Homo sapiens: one gene and its partner. The protein of the gene in region 1 interacts with the protein of each later gene in a biochemical or structural test. Each region holds a gene or a part of one and is shown in the gene's direction. Other genes may lie near its edges.

The links. Proteins that work in one complex are often made in the same cells at the same time.
Region 2: the proteins of SOX17 (region 1) and NFIC form a complex in vitro, tested with the Homo sapiens proteins (one study listed by BioGRID).

Annotation. Positions count from the first base shown.
Region 1 is NC_000008.11:54,452,420-54,461,172, forward strand, and holds SOX17 (transcription factor SOX-17), read left to right. Parts: upstream 1-5,515; 5' UTR 5,516-5,719; coding exon 5,720-6,026; intron 6,027-6,638; coding exon 6,639-7,576; 3' UTR 7,577-8,473; downstream 8,474-8,753. UniProt on the Homo sapiens protein: Acts as a transcription regulator that binds target promoter DNA and bends the DNA. Binds to the sequences 5'-AACAAT-'3 or 5'-AACAAAG-3'. Modulates transcriptional regulation via WNT3A. Inhibits Wnt signaling. Promotes degradation of activated CTNNB1.
Region 2 is NC_000019.10:3,376,102-3,383,972, forward strand, and holds part of NFIC (nuclear factor 1 C-type), read left to right. Parts: intron 1-5,610; coding exon 5,611-6,142; intron 6,143-7,871.

The DNA of each region.
Region 1 (8,753 bases):
CTGAGATGAGAACAGTCTTTGCTAAGGTCTACAGAGGTCATTCTCAGTGCCTTTGCTAAGGTCTACAGAGGTCATTCTCAGTGCCTTGCCTTGTAGGGAGATGACCTTAGGACTCCATCCATGACAGCTGTAACAGTATACTGAAGAATATATTGAAGACCAGTGAATTGCGTGGGCTCTCAGGACATAAAGATGAAATGTACCAAAGACCCTGTGTTGTTATTAAAGAGTATTGACAGTTTTGCAAGGTCCAAAAAGTGGACAGAGAAGAAAATTTAGTTAACAGGTTAACCAAATACTGACTGCAAAGGAATCTAGCAAGGATCCCTAACATTTTCTCTTCTGTTCAGAAACTTTGGAAGCCAATTCAGATACCCTTTCAAAATCTGACATGTGTGTGGCTAAAGTTGTACAAAACAGTGGGTAATGAGTGTTGTCAGAAGTGGCCTGTCCTATGCCCTATTTAACTTTGATCACTTCCATGATAACAAAATGCACACCTTGCCCTAACCATCTGGCACAATCCAGCCCTGCTTACCAGGGAAACTTGGCAAGCCAGAGTTTTCAGGGTGGAAAGGAAACCTATTATCTCTACTAGAAAAAAAAAATCTCAAAGCGCTTGACCTACTGATGTCAGCATCACCTTTACATGCCAGGAACAAATTATTACAGAAGACCATACCTAGAACACCCAGCTGGAAGTTAATGAATCAGGGAGGAAGACTAATGACACGGCACGGTACATTCCTCCGAGGCAGGGACCGCGTCTATTCTCCTTCGGGTGGGAGTGGAAGTGCTCTGCGCACAGTGGGCACGCTGCTGATAAGGCTGTCTGGTCAGGTGAGGACACAGGTCTCCAAGGAAAGCCCTGCCTTCTCCTAGGGTGTGGATGGGGAAAGTGGGAGTAGGAGTTCACCTGCAGCACCGAGTGCATAGAAGCTCTGCCGCTATTGAAATCCCTTTTAAGGCTGAGGGGCAGATCTGAAAGGGGTGAGCAAGACAGTACTGTGTATGTGACGAGTCCTGGGTGAGGAACGGGACCCTCTCCCTCATTCCCAACGCCACCTCTCCCTGGAGTATGAGGTTCCACAGCCCAGGCAATAAAGGGAAGTAGCCCACACACCTCAACCCGGGGCCACAGTTGGAGGTGGGGAGATCTAAGAAACACTCCACGGATGAGTTTCTGAAGAGGGAAGTGGACCGGGAACAGCGCATTTCCTGCTTCGCCTGTGCAAATCCCAGGCGGGGCCAAGCGGGAACGGGGACACGGTCTAAGAGTCGCCCGCTGCCAGGGAGGGGTTGGGGGGCAGCCTCGAGGGGACACCGCGGAACCAGGGAGGGATGCGCATGGAGGGAGTGGGAGAAGGCGTCCAAGTAAAATGCATGCTCCGGTCATCGGGGGTAACGCGCGTCCCCAAATCCCCTCTCGCTGTCGCCCTTTTTTTCAGTCCTCACGGGGAGAGGCCGGCGCAGCAGTGGAGCACCGCAGGGGCTGGATCGGACCCGCACTGCAGCATCTGCAGGGCTCCGACCTGGTGCGGGCCTCCAAGGCAGGGGGCGCGCGGCGGCACAGCCGGTGGCCGCGATTTTCCGGGCCACTCCTTCCCCCCTTACACTCCCCTCCCGCCCGCGACCTTCGACCTCCATCCTGGACCCACGGGGTACTGGCCCGGGGACAAGGAGGAGACGTTAAAGGTATCAAGGGGCGCGGCACCGCCGCCTAGACGGCGCCGGGACGCGAGGTGCGAATCGGCGGCGTCCGGCTGCGCTGCCCTACCTGGGAGGTGCGGGACCCTCGGCCGCGCTCCACCGCCGCGCGCCACCTCGTGCTGGCCTCCGGGAGGCAGCCGCCCGCGCACGATTTATAAATGCAAAGGCCTTATTGTTGTTCTTTGTTCAGGGATACCATTGTCTAGTCATCCACGGGCAGCCTGGAGTTTTCCCAGGGTTTGCGGCGCGCACTCCCCTCCCCCGCCCCCACAGACTTGCTCTCCAGCGCCAACCCGGATCTGCCTAGGTGCCCACGGGTCCTTCCCGATCGACTTGAGTGTCCTTCCTCCAGCCCCTGCTTTCCCAGCATCGAAAACACAAAAGCCTGCCGGAAATCACCCAGCCTTTGCCTGGTCACTCAGGGGCCCACGGATAAGCGTGGCTCTGATTCCTCCAGGTCAGCCCCACGGTTCGCCACCTACCCGAGTTAATTTCTGCGCCCGCTGACCAAAGGCCCCAACTGGCAACGGGCACAGCTTCTTGGTGCGCTAGTCGCTTCCTTGCCCAGCCTTTAGAGCCTCGGGTCCGGCCCAAGGACCCGGGGACGTGAGCGCAATTAGTAGCCAGGAGCCCTGCGACCCTGGACCGTGCAGTGCTAACGCACCCGAACGGCTATGCGAGCGGTGTACTCGGCTCTTACTTGTGAAAGTTGTTTCCCCCAACCCCCTGCGTAAATCTCTTGTGTTGAGAAAAGCAAGGCTTGCAGGAAGCCACTCCGGATGTTTGCTGCTTTACATGTGGCATCTGTGGCTGGCTCTGATAACGTCCCGGGGCACCACGTATTAAAGTGAAGAGACTGAAATAGAAGGCTCCACACACCGCGCGCGGGTCAGCGACGTCGCCGCCCTCCACACTGCCCCCCGAAATATAAGACAAGCGAATGATCAGAAGAAATGAGATCTAACTAGGTCACAGTATGTAAAAGGGACTAGTCTTGGAAAGCCACCACAATTCCTCCCCTGTAAATTTGTAAACTGTGAATTTATGATCTCAGGGAGGGTGTTATAAGAAGTAGGGGGAGGGGCGTCAAAATCTGAAGCTCCTACTCCAACCTATGATTGTGTACTTTCACCTGATTTCTCTTACCAGACCAAGATCAGTCCCCAAGAACAAGGGCAAATAAAAATAGGGAAACCCGGCCGGGCGCGGTGGCTCACGACGGTAATCCCAGCACTTTGGGAGACCAAGGCGGGCGGATCACCTGAGGTCAGGAGTTTGAGACCAGCCTGACCAATATGATGAAACCCCGTCTCTACTAAAAATACAAAAATTAGCTAGGCGTGGTGGCATGCGTCTGTAATCCCAGCTACTCGGGAGGCTGAGACAGGAGAATCGCTTGAATCGGGGAGGCGGAGGTTGCAGCGAGCCGAGATCGCGCCATTGCACTCCAGCCTGGGCAACAAGAGGGAAACTCTGTCTCAATAAATGAATAAGTAAATAAATCAATAAAATATGGAAACCCCACGTTTTCTTCCCCATCATTTTCTCCACCTTCTTGGCTCCCAAGCGCACCTCTCCCAATAATGAGCTGGGTGAGGAAGAGCATGAGGATGAAGAAAGTGTACAGGGCTAAATCTGTATATGTACATTTTTTGGACTCACACCTGGATTGTATTTCCTGTAGTGTTTTTTAAGGAATTAGTCAAACAGACTAGACAGATAAAAATGAATTCTGGACCAGATATTGTTTTTTAATTTTCAATGTTTATTCTAGGAAAACTCCTTAGCTCATAAAAGATTTAGTGTTAAGAGAAAATTCTGCTTTGAGAGCTTTGAAAAATATTTATTATTATCCAGAAAAGTTAGAAAAGATCTCAAAAAAAAAAAAAAAAAAAACAGCAAAAAACAAGGTACTACGGGGTTAATTTGTAGATTGCTCTCTCTCCTCCTATAGTTTTGTTGCTTATTTAATCATTTGCAATGTGCTTTTGCTTTATACTGAAGCCCATTTTTTTTTCAGAAAAAATAAAGCTTTAAAAGTACATCATCATTTAAATTTGTCTAAAATCAACCGCTTTCAAAACTACCAACTAGAAGTAACACCTCTCTATGATTTCTTTATGCAGATTTAATTTTTTTTCTTGTTTGAATCTTAGAGACCCAGGAACTAGAAACACTTTCTTAACTTGTCCCCTAGCCAAGGCTTCACAGATACTTGCAGAATTAAAGATAAGTTGGCTTAAAACAATTGTGTAAGAGTTCTTTTGAGAAAAAGCAATGCCAGAGAAACTGAAGGCCAGGAGTTTGCAAAAGTTTTGTATTTTTATGGATGCCACTAATAAGCAAGACTGGACAGACGGTCTTGTTGTTGTAGTATCACACTCAAAGCAGCAGCATTTTACTTCTCAGATTCCAGGTGTAAGCTCTACTTTTTTATCACGCCTTCATAATAAAGAAAATCTGTTCTGGAGATTCGTATATTGATTTCTTTGCAAAGTTATCTCTAATTATGCAGGAATGGCTGTTAGTTGCCCTCAAAAACCAACACAAATACACAAACACAACAGCCTGGCTTAGTGATTATTAAGAGCTGCAAGTCTGAAGGCGGACTGCTGGGTGTGAATTCCACCTTCTCAACGCTGTAGTCTCCAGCAAGTTCCTTAACTTCTCTGCCTCCGTTTCCTTTCCTGTAAGATAGAGTCTACCTCAGGGTTAATATGAGGATATGCTTCTTTGCTAATGCTGGAGGGCGCTAGGAATAGCAGTGGCAGGCTGTGTCATTTCTCAGTGTTGTATAACGGCTTGTTTTAAAAGTCCCACTGAAAACTTTTTTTTTTTCCAGATCGAAACACAAGTTTAATAGTCATTCAGATTTCATTCCAGTCTAAAGAAACTTATAGAAATCTAATTATCTGCCAGAATAACCGCTTTAAACTGACTGTAAGAACCACAGTTACTTTGCAGCTAAAACAGATTGTTCTCTTCCCCCAAACAAACTCGGACATTTAGACAAATATTGCTGCTGTCTTTACATTTTAGAAATCAGTATTAAGGCTCACCTGTTACTGAACACATACGAGAAACAGTTTTGTTATGCGTATCTTATATACATCATGTATACATTTTCGTACTTTCACATGATGTGTATAATAAGATACACATAAAAACTGGTTGGCTTGTCATGAGTAAATGCTTTATTCTTTAGAGTGAAGGAATATTGGATACAGAACGTCGTTCCATATTTAATCTTGCTTTAGAAAATTAGGATTTATCTTGGACACAGCATTTTGAATATAACACAGGCAAGTTGAGTCCTGGGGGAAAAATTGTATTTTTAAATTTATTATCAACGGTGTCTTTCGCATTTGAGAAAACACATTTGAAGATGCCCATGCAGTTCCTTGGAAGTAAACTAGGTCACCCACCACTGAAACACCCTCGGCTTCTGCAAAAAGATGTGCTTTAAAGAGAATAGAATGGACGCTCGGTATGTTCATCTAAACGACCTTGGGCAAGTACGTCGATTCCAAGGTACAATCAGCCCTCCCAGACGGCTTTTCGAGTCTCCCTAACCCCGGTGGGAGAGGACGCGGCGCCAGAGCCCAGCTCCGGCTAGTTTTCCCGGGGGCAGGTGTAGCCTTGGGCGCGGGGCCGGGGGAGGGGCAAGGGGCGGGCGTGGGGTTGGACTGGGACGTGGGACTCGGACCACGGCCTGGGCGTGGGCCTAACGACGCGGGACCGGCCCGCCCTCGCCGCTCCATTGGCCACATCTGTGCAGAAAAGGCCCCGCGGCCCAGGGGCGCCCGCAGTGTCACTAGGCCGGCTGGGGGCCCTGGGTACGCTGTAGACCAGACCGCGACAGGCCAGAACACGGGCGGCGGCTTCGGGCCGGGAGACCCGCGCAGCCCTCGGGGCATCTCAGTGCCTCACTCCCCACCCCCTCCCCCGGGTCGGGGGAGGCGGCGCGTCCGGCGGAGGGTTGAGGGGAGCGGGGCAGGCCTGGAGCGCCATGAGCAGCCCGGATGCGGGATACGCCAGTGACGACCAGAGCCAGACCCAGAGCGCGCTGCCCGCGGTGATGGCCGGGCTGGGCCCCTGCCCCTGGGCCGAGTCGCTGAGCCCCATCGGGGACATGAAGGTGAAGGGCGAGGCGCCGGCGAACAGCGGAGCACCGGCCGGGGCCGCGGGCCGAGCCAAGGGCGAGTCCCGTATCCGGCGGCCGATGAACGCTTTCATGGTGTGGGCTAAGGACGAGCGCAAGCGGCTGGCGCAGCAGAATCCAGACCTGCACAACGCCGAGTTGAGCAAGATGCTGGGTGAGTCCGAGTCGCAGACCCAGGCGGCCGGGCGCGCTGGCGCGAATCGCTAGGCCGATTTCTTAAACCCCAAACTGTTCTTTGCGAGCCTGACGCCCAAAACCAGGGGTGTGTAGCGGCCACGTCCTTTCTTAAGGCTCTGGGTTCCCTTCCCGCTTCCCGCCCTCCGACCCTCCAAAGCAGCTTTCCGCCTTGCTCTCCGGCTCCCGGATTCCCCAGGTGGCCGGGGGCGCGGGTCCAACGGCTCTGGGAAGGCGACTTCCCGGCACCTCCGGGCGGCGCGAGAGCACCCTTGGCCCTGAACTGGGCCGGTTGTGTCCATCCCTCGACCCCTTCCCTAGTTAGGTGTCCTTTTCTGTTTTTCGAACGACCGGGTGATGGGTGAGCGGAAAGCCGCTTCCAGGAGACCAAAAGAAAGGGGTGCCTTTAGAGGACGGGTGTTCCCCAAGGGCTCGGACTCAGGAGTCCCAGATCTCCCTCTTTAACTTCACCCCGGTTGCGCAATTCAAAGTCTGAGGGGGGAGGTGCGTCCAGGTGGGGCCAGGTGGGGCCTGGAGCGGGAGCGCAGCCGATAAGCCCTGCGCCCCTCTCCCCCTTCCTTCCACTGTGCAGGCAAGTCGTGGAAGGCGCTGACGCTGGCGGAGAAGCGGCCCTTCGTGGAGGAGGCAGAGCGGCTGCGCGTGCAGCACATGCAGGACCACCCCAACTACAAGTACCGGCCGCGGCGGCGCAAGCAGGTGAAGCGGCTGAAGCGGGTGGAGGGCGGCTTCCTGCACGGCCTGGCTGAGCCGCAGGCGGCCGCGCTGGGCCCCGAGGGCGGCCGCGTGGCCATGGACGGCCTGGGCCTCCAGTTCCCCGAGCAGGGCTTCCCCGCCGGCCCGCCGCTGCTGCCTCCGCACATGGGCGGCCACTACCGCGACTGCCAGAGTCTGGGCGCGCCTCCGCTCGACGGCTACCCGTTGCCCACGCCCGACACGTCCCCGCTGGACGGCGTGGACCCCGACCCGGCTTTCTTCGCCGCCCCGATGCCCGGGGACTGCCCGGCGGCCGGCACCTACAGCTACGCGCAGGTCTCGGACTACGCTGGCCCCCCGGAGCCTCCCGCCGGTCCCATGCACCCCCGACTCGGCCCAGAGCCCGCGGGTCCCTCGATTCCGGGCCTCCTGGCGCCACCCAGCGCCCTTCACGTGTACTACGGCGCGATGGGCTCGCCCGGGGCGGGCGGCGGGCGCGGCTTCCAGATGCAGCCGCAACACCAGCACCAGCACCAGCACCAGCACCACCCCCCGGGCCCCGGACAGCCGTCGCCCCCTCCGGAGGCACTGCCCTGCCGGGACGGCACGGACCCCAGTCAGCCCGCCGAGCTCCTCGGGGAGGTGGACCGCACGGAATTTGAACAGTATCTGCACTTCGTGTGCAAGCCTGAGATGGGCCTCCCCTACCAGGGGCATGACTCCGGTGTGAATCTCCCCGACAGCCACGGGGCCATTTCCTCGGTGGTGTCCGACGCCAGCTCCGCGGTATATTACTGCAACTATCCTGACGTGTGACAGGTCCCTGATCCGCCCCAGCCTGCAGGCCAGAAGCAGTGTTACACACTTCCTGGAGGAGCTAAGGAAATCCTCAGACTCCTGGGTTTTTGTTGTTGCTGTTGTTGTTTTTTAAAAGGTGTGTTGGCATATAATTTATGGTAATTTATTTTGTCTGCCACTTGAACAGTTTGGGGGGGTGAGGTTTCATTTAAAATTTGTTCAGAGATTTGTTTCCCATAGTTGGATTGTCAAAACCCTATTTCCAAGTTCAAGTTAACTAGCTTTGAATGTGTCCCAAAACAGCTTCCTCCATTTCCTGAAAGTTTATTGATCAAAGAAATGTTGTCCTGGGTGTGTTTTTTCAATCTTCTAAAAAATAAAATCTGGAATCCTGCTTTTTTGCTCTACTAGTACCTCTGTCACACTAGTCTTATCAAAAACCAGTTCTTAAGATCAATGTTAAGTTTATTAGTTAATGTAAATTTCTCATCCTCGAAAAGGGTGAACATAAATGCCTTTAAGGAGTATATCTAAAAATAAACATTAGGATATCTAAGTTTGATGTAATTGTTTCAGGAAGGAAAAAAGAAAAGCATTCTGGAATGAGCCTACTTCAAGTAATCTTAGTTTCTAAAACTAACAGTTAATATTTTCAATTCCAGTATATCACTTTAAGTAGAAGGGGATGTCCAAGTAATTTTGGTTTTCTAACTGTTGAATCATAAGCTTGACCTGCCCCCAGAGGCTTTTTGGATGTTTTTATCTGTGTTTTGCCATCTCTTTACACTCCTCGACATTCAGTTTACCTTAATCTTCACATTTTTACACCTTGGGAAGTGGCAAGCATCGCTGGGTTTAAGATAAAGGAGTCACAAAAACTAATCAAAATAAAATTTGCATTATGACAACTTTTAATACACTTTAGCATTTTATTTGATTGGTTTTTTTTTTTTTTGCTTTTAGATTTAATACATATACGGACGATTGCACAGACTTAGGGGAGAATCCATGAATGGTTTGTGTGTAGTGTCCCTATCTATCACCATTACTTTATCAAGAAGAAACAGTTACAGGGTTGTGAGTAAAAGATGGGGATCAGCCCCTGTAATCTGCCATACTAATCGCTGTGGCACGTCTCACCACATTTGAGATTGAGACATAAATGGAAACAGGTGACTTATAATGGGCATTTCCT
Region 2 (7,871 bases), on another chromosome or scaffold:
TTCCCTGCTTCCTGGAAGATTGTCTGCAATCAAAATGATCATCGCAGCAATCGCGTCCATAGTAATGAAAATACCCCAGCATCTTAGAGGGGCCGAGGCGGGAGGATCGCTTGAGCCCAGGAATTCGAGACCAGCCTGGGCAACATAGCAAGACCCCCATCTCTACTAAAAGTACAAAAATTAGCTGGGCATGGTGGCGCACCTGGAATCCCAGCTACTCGGGAGGCTGAGACATGAGAATCGCCTGAACCCAGGAGGCGGAGGTTGCAGTGAGCTGAGATCATGCCACCGCCCTCCAGCCTGGGCAACAGTGTGAGACACTGTCTCAAAAAAAAAAAAAAAAAAAAAAAAAAAAAAAGGAAAGAAAATAGAAAATATCCCAGTGCCTTAGGAGGCCGAGGTGGGAGGATCACTTGAGCCCAGGAGTTTGAGACCGGCCAAGGCAACACAGTGAGTGAGACTCCATCTCTGCAAAAATAAAAATTAGCCAGACATGGTGGTTTGCACCTGTAGTCCCAGCTACTCAGGAAGCTGACGTGGGAGAATCGCTTGAGTCTGGGAGTTCAGGGCCCAAGTGACCTAAGATCGTGCCACTGCACTCCAGTGAGACGCCTGTCTTTTTTATTTATTTATTTATTTATTTTGAGACGGAGTCTCGCTCTTGTTGCCCAGGCTGGAGTGCAATGGCGCGACCTTGGCTCACTGCAACCTCTGCCTCCCGGGTTCAAGTGATTCTCCTGCCTTAGCCTCCCGAGTAGCTGGGATTACAGGCGCCTGTCACCATACCTGGCTAATTTTTTGTGTTTTTAGTAGAGATGGGGTTTCGCCATGTTGGCCAGGCTGATCTCAAACTCCTGACCTCAGATGATCCACCCACCTCGGCCTCCCAAAGTGCTGGGATTACAGGCGTGAGCCACCACACCAGGCTGAGACCCCCATCTCTTAAAAAAAAAAGTAATAAAAATCACAGTAGCCCCAGCACTTTGGGAGGCCGAGGCAGGCGGATCACGAGGTCAGGACATTGAGACCATCCTGGCTAACACAGTGAACCCCCGTCTCTACTAAAAAAAAAAATACAAAAAATTAGTTGGGCATGGTGGCGGGTGCCTGTAGTCCCAGCTATTCAGGAGGCTGAGGCAGGAGAATGGCGTGAACCCGGGAGGTAGAGTTTGCAGTGAGCTGAGATCGCATCACTGCACTCTAGCCTGGGTGACAGAGCGAGACTCTGTCTCAAAAAAAAAAAAAAAAAAAAAAAATCCAATAGCAATATAAGTTGTAATGATAACAATCATCGCATCATTAATAACAATGTAGTCCTTTGAGAGCTGGGGGGAGGAAAACAGCTTTCTGTGCTAGGAAGGGATCACCCCTGTCCGAAATGCCCAGCCCAGCCTGGTCAAGGCAGGGAGATGGAAAGGCAGTTTTGCTTCTCTTTCTCTTCTTGTTCCTTGTATTTATTCCACCTTGAGGCTGAGAAACTAGGTCCCAGATGTTTTTAATTTGTTTTATTTTATTTTTTATTTTTTTAGAGACAGGGTCTTACTCTATCCCCCAGGCTGGAGTGCAGTGGCACAATCACAGCTCACTGCAGCCTCGACCTCTGAGGCTCAAGTGATCCTCCCACCTCAGCCTCCTAAGTAGCTAGGACTACAGGTGTGCGCCACAGCAACTATGCCCAACTAATTATTTTTGTAATTTTTAGTAGAGACGGGGTTTCGACATGTTGGTCAGGCTGCTCTCAAACACTTGGGCTCAAGTGATCTCTCCACCTCGGCCTCCCAAGTAGCTGGGACTACAGACGCGCACCACAAAAATTATGCCCAGCTAATTTTTGTAATTTTCGTAAAGATAGGGTTTTGCCTGCCGGCCACAGTGGCTCACACCTGTAATCCCAGCACTTTGGGAGGCAGAGGCAGGTGGACCACCTGAGGTCAGGAGTTCAAGACCAGCCTGGCCAACATGGTGAAACCCCATCTCTACTAAAAATACAAAAATTAGCTGGGCATGATAGTGTGTGGCTGTAATAGTGTGTGCCTGTAATCCCAGCTACTCGGGAGGCTGAGGCAGGAGAATCTCTTGAACCTGGGAGGCGGAGGTTGCAGTGAGCCGAGATTGTGCCACTGCACTCCAGCCTGGGTGACAAGAGTGAAACTCTGTCTCAAAAAAAAAAAAAAAAAAAAGGAGATGGGGTTTCGCCATGTTGCCCAGGCTGGGATTGAACTGGGCTCAAGTGATCCACCCACCTCAGCCTCCCAAAGTTCTGGGATTACAGGCGTTAGCCATAGTCCCCAGCTGAGATCCCAAATGCTATGCAGACTCAGTTTCCCTTGCTGGAAAATGGGAAGAATGGGAGGGGCCTCCCCACACCCAGACAGGGAGCTGGGGGCCTCCCACTGCCCCACATTTCTCTTCAAGGGGCTGCTGTTATTTTCGTGGGGAAGTCAGATGAGTGCAGGTTCCAGTCCACCTCTGTCCCCCATGGCCGGGTTCCCCCTCAAGGCCTCAGTTTCCTCATCTGTAGCATGGGTGTTGTGACTGCCCTCAGACACCAATTTGTCATGATTTGGGAGTAGGTTGAAGTCCCAGCTCTGGCCCAGTCTCAGCGCCTTCCCAGCCCTCGGATTTTCCATCTCCAGGGTGGGTCTGCAGGGAACGGGGTGGCCCCTCTCCCCAGTTCTGAACCTTTGTGGCTGAGCGTCTGCTTCTCTGGTCTGTTTCTGTATCAGCACAGTGGGTTCATGGAAAGGGGAAAGGAGGGAGAGGACTCCACCCGGGATTTCTCCTCCCTCTGATTAATCCTGGTGCACTTGAATCTCTTATCTTTTGATGCAGAAATCCCCCCACCCTTCCAGCAGCCCTCAACCTCCAGGCGGGCCTAGTGTCTGCCTGTGGATCTCAGCCAGGCCTGTCTGTACATATGCTCTGTAGGAACAAGCTTTCGTAGTCATTTTTTGTTTTTTTGTTTTTTGTTTTCCCAAGATGGAGTCTCGCCCTGTCACCCAGGCTGGAGTACAGTGGAGTGACCTTGGCTCACTGCAACCTCCACCTCCCAGGTTCAAGCAATTCTCCTGCCTCAGCCTCCCAAGTAGCTGGGATTACAGTCATGCGCCACCACGCCTGGCTAATTTTTGTATTTTTAGTAGAGACAGAGTTTCACCATGTTAGCCAGGCTGGTCTTGAACTCCTGACTTCTTGATCTGCCCGCCTCGGTCTCCCAAAGTGCTAGGATTACAGGCATGAACCACCGCGCCCAGCCGGGTTTTTTTTTTTTGAGACGGAGTCTCACTCTGTCGCCCAGGCTGGAATGTAGTGGCGAGCTCTCGGCTCACTGCAACCTCTGCCTCCTGGGTTCTCCTGCCTCAGCCTCCTGAGTAGCCGGGACTACAGGCGTGTGCCACCATGCCCAGCTAATTTTTGTATTTTTAGTAAAGATGGGGTTTCACTATGTTGGCCAGGCTGGTGTCAAGCTCTTGACCTCAAGCGATCCACCTGCCTCAGCCTCCCAAAGTGCTGGGATTACAGGCGTGAGCCACTGCGCCCAGCCTCATTTTTCATTTTTTTTTATTTCTTTCTTTTTTTTTTTTTTTTTTTTTTTGAGTCAGGAGTCAGGGGTCTCACTACGTTGTCACCCGGGCTGGAGATCAATGGCGCAACCTTGGCTCACTGCAGCCTTGACCTCCTGGGCTCAATTGATCTTCCCACCTCAGCCTCCCAAGTAGTTGGGACTGCAGGTATGCATCACCTAGCTAAGTTTTGATTTTGTAGAAACGGGGCCTCGCTATGTCATCCAGGCTGGTCTTGAACTCCTGGGCTCAAGCAGTCCACCCACTGTGGCCTCCCAAAGTGCTGGGATTACAGGTGTGAGCCACCATGCTTGGCCGCCGACCCTAGTTTTTTTTTGTTTTGTTTTGTTTTTTGAGATGGAGTCTTGCTCTGTCGCCCAGGCTGGAGTGCAGTGGCGCAATCTCGGCTCACTGCAAGCTCCGCCTCCCGGGTTCATGCCAATCTCCTGCCTCAGCCTCCTGAGTAGCTGGGACTACAGGCGCCCGACACCACGCCCGGCTAATTTTTTTGTTTTTTTTTCAGTAGAGACGGGGTTTCACTGTGTTAGCCAGGATGGTCTCAATCTCCTGACCTCGTGATCTGCCCGCCTTGGCCTCCCAAAGTGCTGGGATTACAAGCGTGAGCCACCGTGCCCAGCCTTGTTCTTTTTTTTTTTTTTTTTTTTTTTTTGAGACAGTGTTTCACTCTTGGCACCCAGGCTCCCAGGCTGGAGTGCAGTGGCACAATCTGAGCTCACTGCAACCTCTGCCTCCCAGGTTCAAGCGATTCTCCTGTCTCAGCCTCCTGAGTAGCTGGGATTACAGGTGTGCTCCAATATGCCTGGCTACATTTTTTTGTATTTTTAGTAGGGACGGGGTTTTGCCATGTTGGCCGGGCTGGTCTCAAGCTCCTAACCTCAGGTGATCCACCTGCTTCGGTCTCCCAAAGTGCTGGGATTACAGGTGTGAGCCACTGCGCCCAGGCTTTTTTTTTTTTTTTTTTTTTTTGTGACAGTCTTGCTCTGTCGCCCAGGCTGGAGTGCAGTGGCACCATCACAGCTCACTGCAGCATTAAACTCCTGGGCTCAAATGATCCTCCCACCCCAGCCTCCCAACTAGCTGGGACTACAGTTGCAAACCACCATACCTGGCTAATTTTTGTTTTTTTGATTTTGTTTGTTCATTTGTTTTGTAGCGATGGGGTTTTACCATATGGCTCAGACTGGTCTCAAACTTCTGGGCTCAAGCAGTCCTCCCTCCTCGGCCTCCCGAAGCGCTGGGATTACAAGTGTGAGCCATTACACCCAGCCCAACCCTAGCTGCAATAGGCAGAGAATAGGTCCCTGACATCTTTGTTCTCCCAACCTCAGTTTTACCCGTCTGTACAATGGGTTGTCCATGAGCCTCCACCTGGCCCCCTTAGCTTGCTCCATCTGCATGCTGGGGTTCAACATAGGTCCTCCACGGCTGGGCATGGTGGCTCACACCTGTCATCCCAGCACTTGGGGAGGCCGAGAGCCGAGGCGGGCGGATCAGAGGTCAGGAGATCGAGACCATCCTGGCCAACATGGTGAAACCCCATCTTTCCTAAAAATACAAAAATTAGCTGGGCGTGGTGGTGGGCATCTGTAATCCTAGCTACTCGGGAGGCTGAGGCAGGAGAATCGCTTGAACCCGGGAGGTGGAGGTTGCAGTGGGCCGAGATTGCGCCACTGCACTCCAGCCTTAGCGTTAAGAGCAAGACTCCGTCTCAAAAAAAAAAAAAAAAAAAATGATCCTCCACAAACTTCCGCCTTGATTTGTGCCTCTCACATAGTCCAAGTCTGTTTGCTCATCTGGGCGATGGGTTCTTGCAGGTCCCTGATAAACTTCTCCTGGGTCCCCCGGGCCTTTTGCGTGCCTCCGGCGGCGTGCACGGGTCCGCAGCGACCCCCTGCCCACCTCTGCCCAGCCCCTCCCACTCTGCGGGTCTGTTCAGGGCCCCTCCGACCTCAGCCTTCGGGGCCGGGCAGTGGGTCCGCCCTCTGCGTCCCTGGCGCTCCTGACCTCTCGCCTCTCCGGCCTGCAGGATGAGTTCCACCCGTTCATCGAGGCCCTGCTGCCTCACGTCCGCGCCTTCGCCTACACCTGGTTCAACCTGCAGGCGCGGAAGCGCAAGTACTTCAAGAAGCACGAGAAGCGGATGTCGAAGGACGAGGAGCGTGCGGTCAAGGACGAGCTGCTGGGCGAGAAGCCCGAGGTCAAGCAGAAGTGGGCGTCGCGGCTGCTGGCCAAGCTGCGCAAGGACATCCGGCCCGAGTGCCGCGAGGACTTCGTGCTGAGCATCACCGGCAAGAAGGCGCCGGGCTGCGTGCTCTCCAACCCCGACCAGAAGGGCAAGATGCGGCGCATCGACTGTCTCCGGCAGGCGGACAAGGTGTGGCGGCTGGACCTGGTCATGGTCATCCTGTTCAAGGGCATCCCGCTGGAGAGCACCGACGGCGAGCGCCTGGTCAAGGCTGCGCAGTGCGGTCACCCGGTCCTGTGCGTGCAGCCGCACCACATTGGCGTGGCCGTCAAGGAGCTGGACCTCTACCTGGCCTACTTCGTGCGTGAGCGAGGTGAGGTGTGGTGGCCTGAGCGGAGCGGCCAGCGGGGAGGGTGTCTGATGGTGGTGACACGGGGCCAGGAGGGCCTGAGGGAGGAGGCCAGTGCGTGTGGGTATGATGTGGTGGTCTGAGAGGGGAAGTGGGCCTTGGAGAGTGCCCAATGGGGGCGACACGGGGCACGGAGCATCTGAGGGAGGAGGCTGGTGGGTATAGATGTGATGTGGTGGTCTGAGAGGGGAGGCGAGTCTAGGAGAATATGTAAAGTAGGTGATATGGCACAAGGAGAGTCTGAGAGAGGAGGCCAGTGCATATAGATGTGATGTGGTGGTCCAGGCAGGGCAGCAGGCCTGGGAGAGCATCTGATGGGGGTGACATGGTGCAAGGAGGGTCTGAGGGAGGAGGCTGGTGCGTGTAGATGTGATGTGGTGGTCCAAGCGGGGAGGCGGGCCTGGGAGAGCGTCTGACGCCGGGTGACACGGGGCAAGGAGGGTCTGAGGGAAGAAGCCAGCATGTGTAGATGTGATGTGGTGGTCTGAGGGGGGAGGCAGGCCTAGGAGAGCGTCTAATGCAAGTGATATGGTGCAAGGAGCGTCTGAGGGAGGAGGCCAGTGCATGCAGGGCCCAGGGTGGCTGCTGATGGGATGTGGAGGTCAGATGGAGGAGGCAGGCCTAGCAGAGGTCTCAAGTGAGAGATGGTACAAGGAGGTTTTTTTGACAGAGGAGGCAGGTGGGCTGTGGCGCTCCAATGGTAGAGGCAGGATCTCACCCTCACGTCTGAGGGAGGAGGCAGGAAGGCCCTTGAGGTCTCAGGGGGATGAGAATGTCCTAGATGGTCTTGGGCACAACGGACGGCCTTGCTGGGAGCAGGGGTGAGGAGAGGAGAGGGACAGGCCATCCCAGCCCTCCGAGGAGAGCCAAGAGAGTCCTGGCACCGCTTTCTGTGAATGCTTGTTGGTTGATTGACTCTCAGACCATGCCAGCAGAGGCCTGATGAGCCTGGCCCTGCCAGAGGGGTGTTTGCCGGTGGTCAAATGCCTGATGTTGAGACCAGCTAGCTCTGTGGGGTTGAGGAAATCCAAGGCGGCTTCCCAGAGGAGGAGGTGCAGCTGAGCTCAGCTCTGCAGGATGGCCAGGCCACAGTGAACAAGGAGATGCCCCAGGGGTCCTGGCAGGAGCGTGGAGATGAGAGGCCTGATGCCTGTGCCTCTGGTCCCGGTGCTAAGAGCAGGGTTGGTCCTGCAGCTTCTTGGCTGCGTGGCCCTCTTGGACTTCAGTTTCTCTTGCCTGCCAAATGGTGGAGATGATCAGTCTGTAGCTGGATGGGGCTATGGGAGGTTCCAGAAGATCATGCGTGTAGCCACGTGCGAGGTGTCAGCTGCATCCCAAGACCTGAGTGGGTGCACAGCACACCCCTGCCATGCCCATCCAGGCCGTGTCTGGAGCACGCGTGAACCCCCACACACCCAGGGGCTGCCAGAGCATGTGGGATGGGTGTACGCCAGACGCAGACCCACACAGGTCACCAGCCCAGCCCCAGCCCAGGCAGCACTCTATAGAAACAGGCAGTTGCACAGCCTGAGAGGGAGGGGCATTTGCCCGAACAGGAGGACCCTGGGGCCAGACTGCCCATGCTCCAGACACAGCCCTTCTTTTCCCCAGCTGTATGGACACATCCCTTTTCTGTGCCTCAGTTTCCTCCTTGGTGCAATGGGAGTAACAGCCATGCCACCTTCTAGAGCTG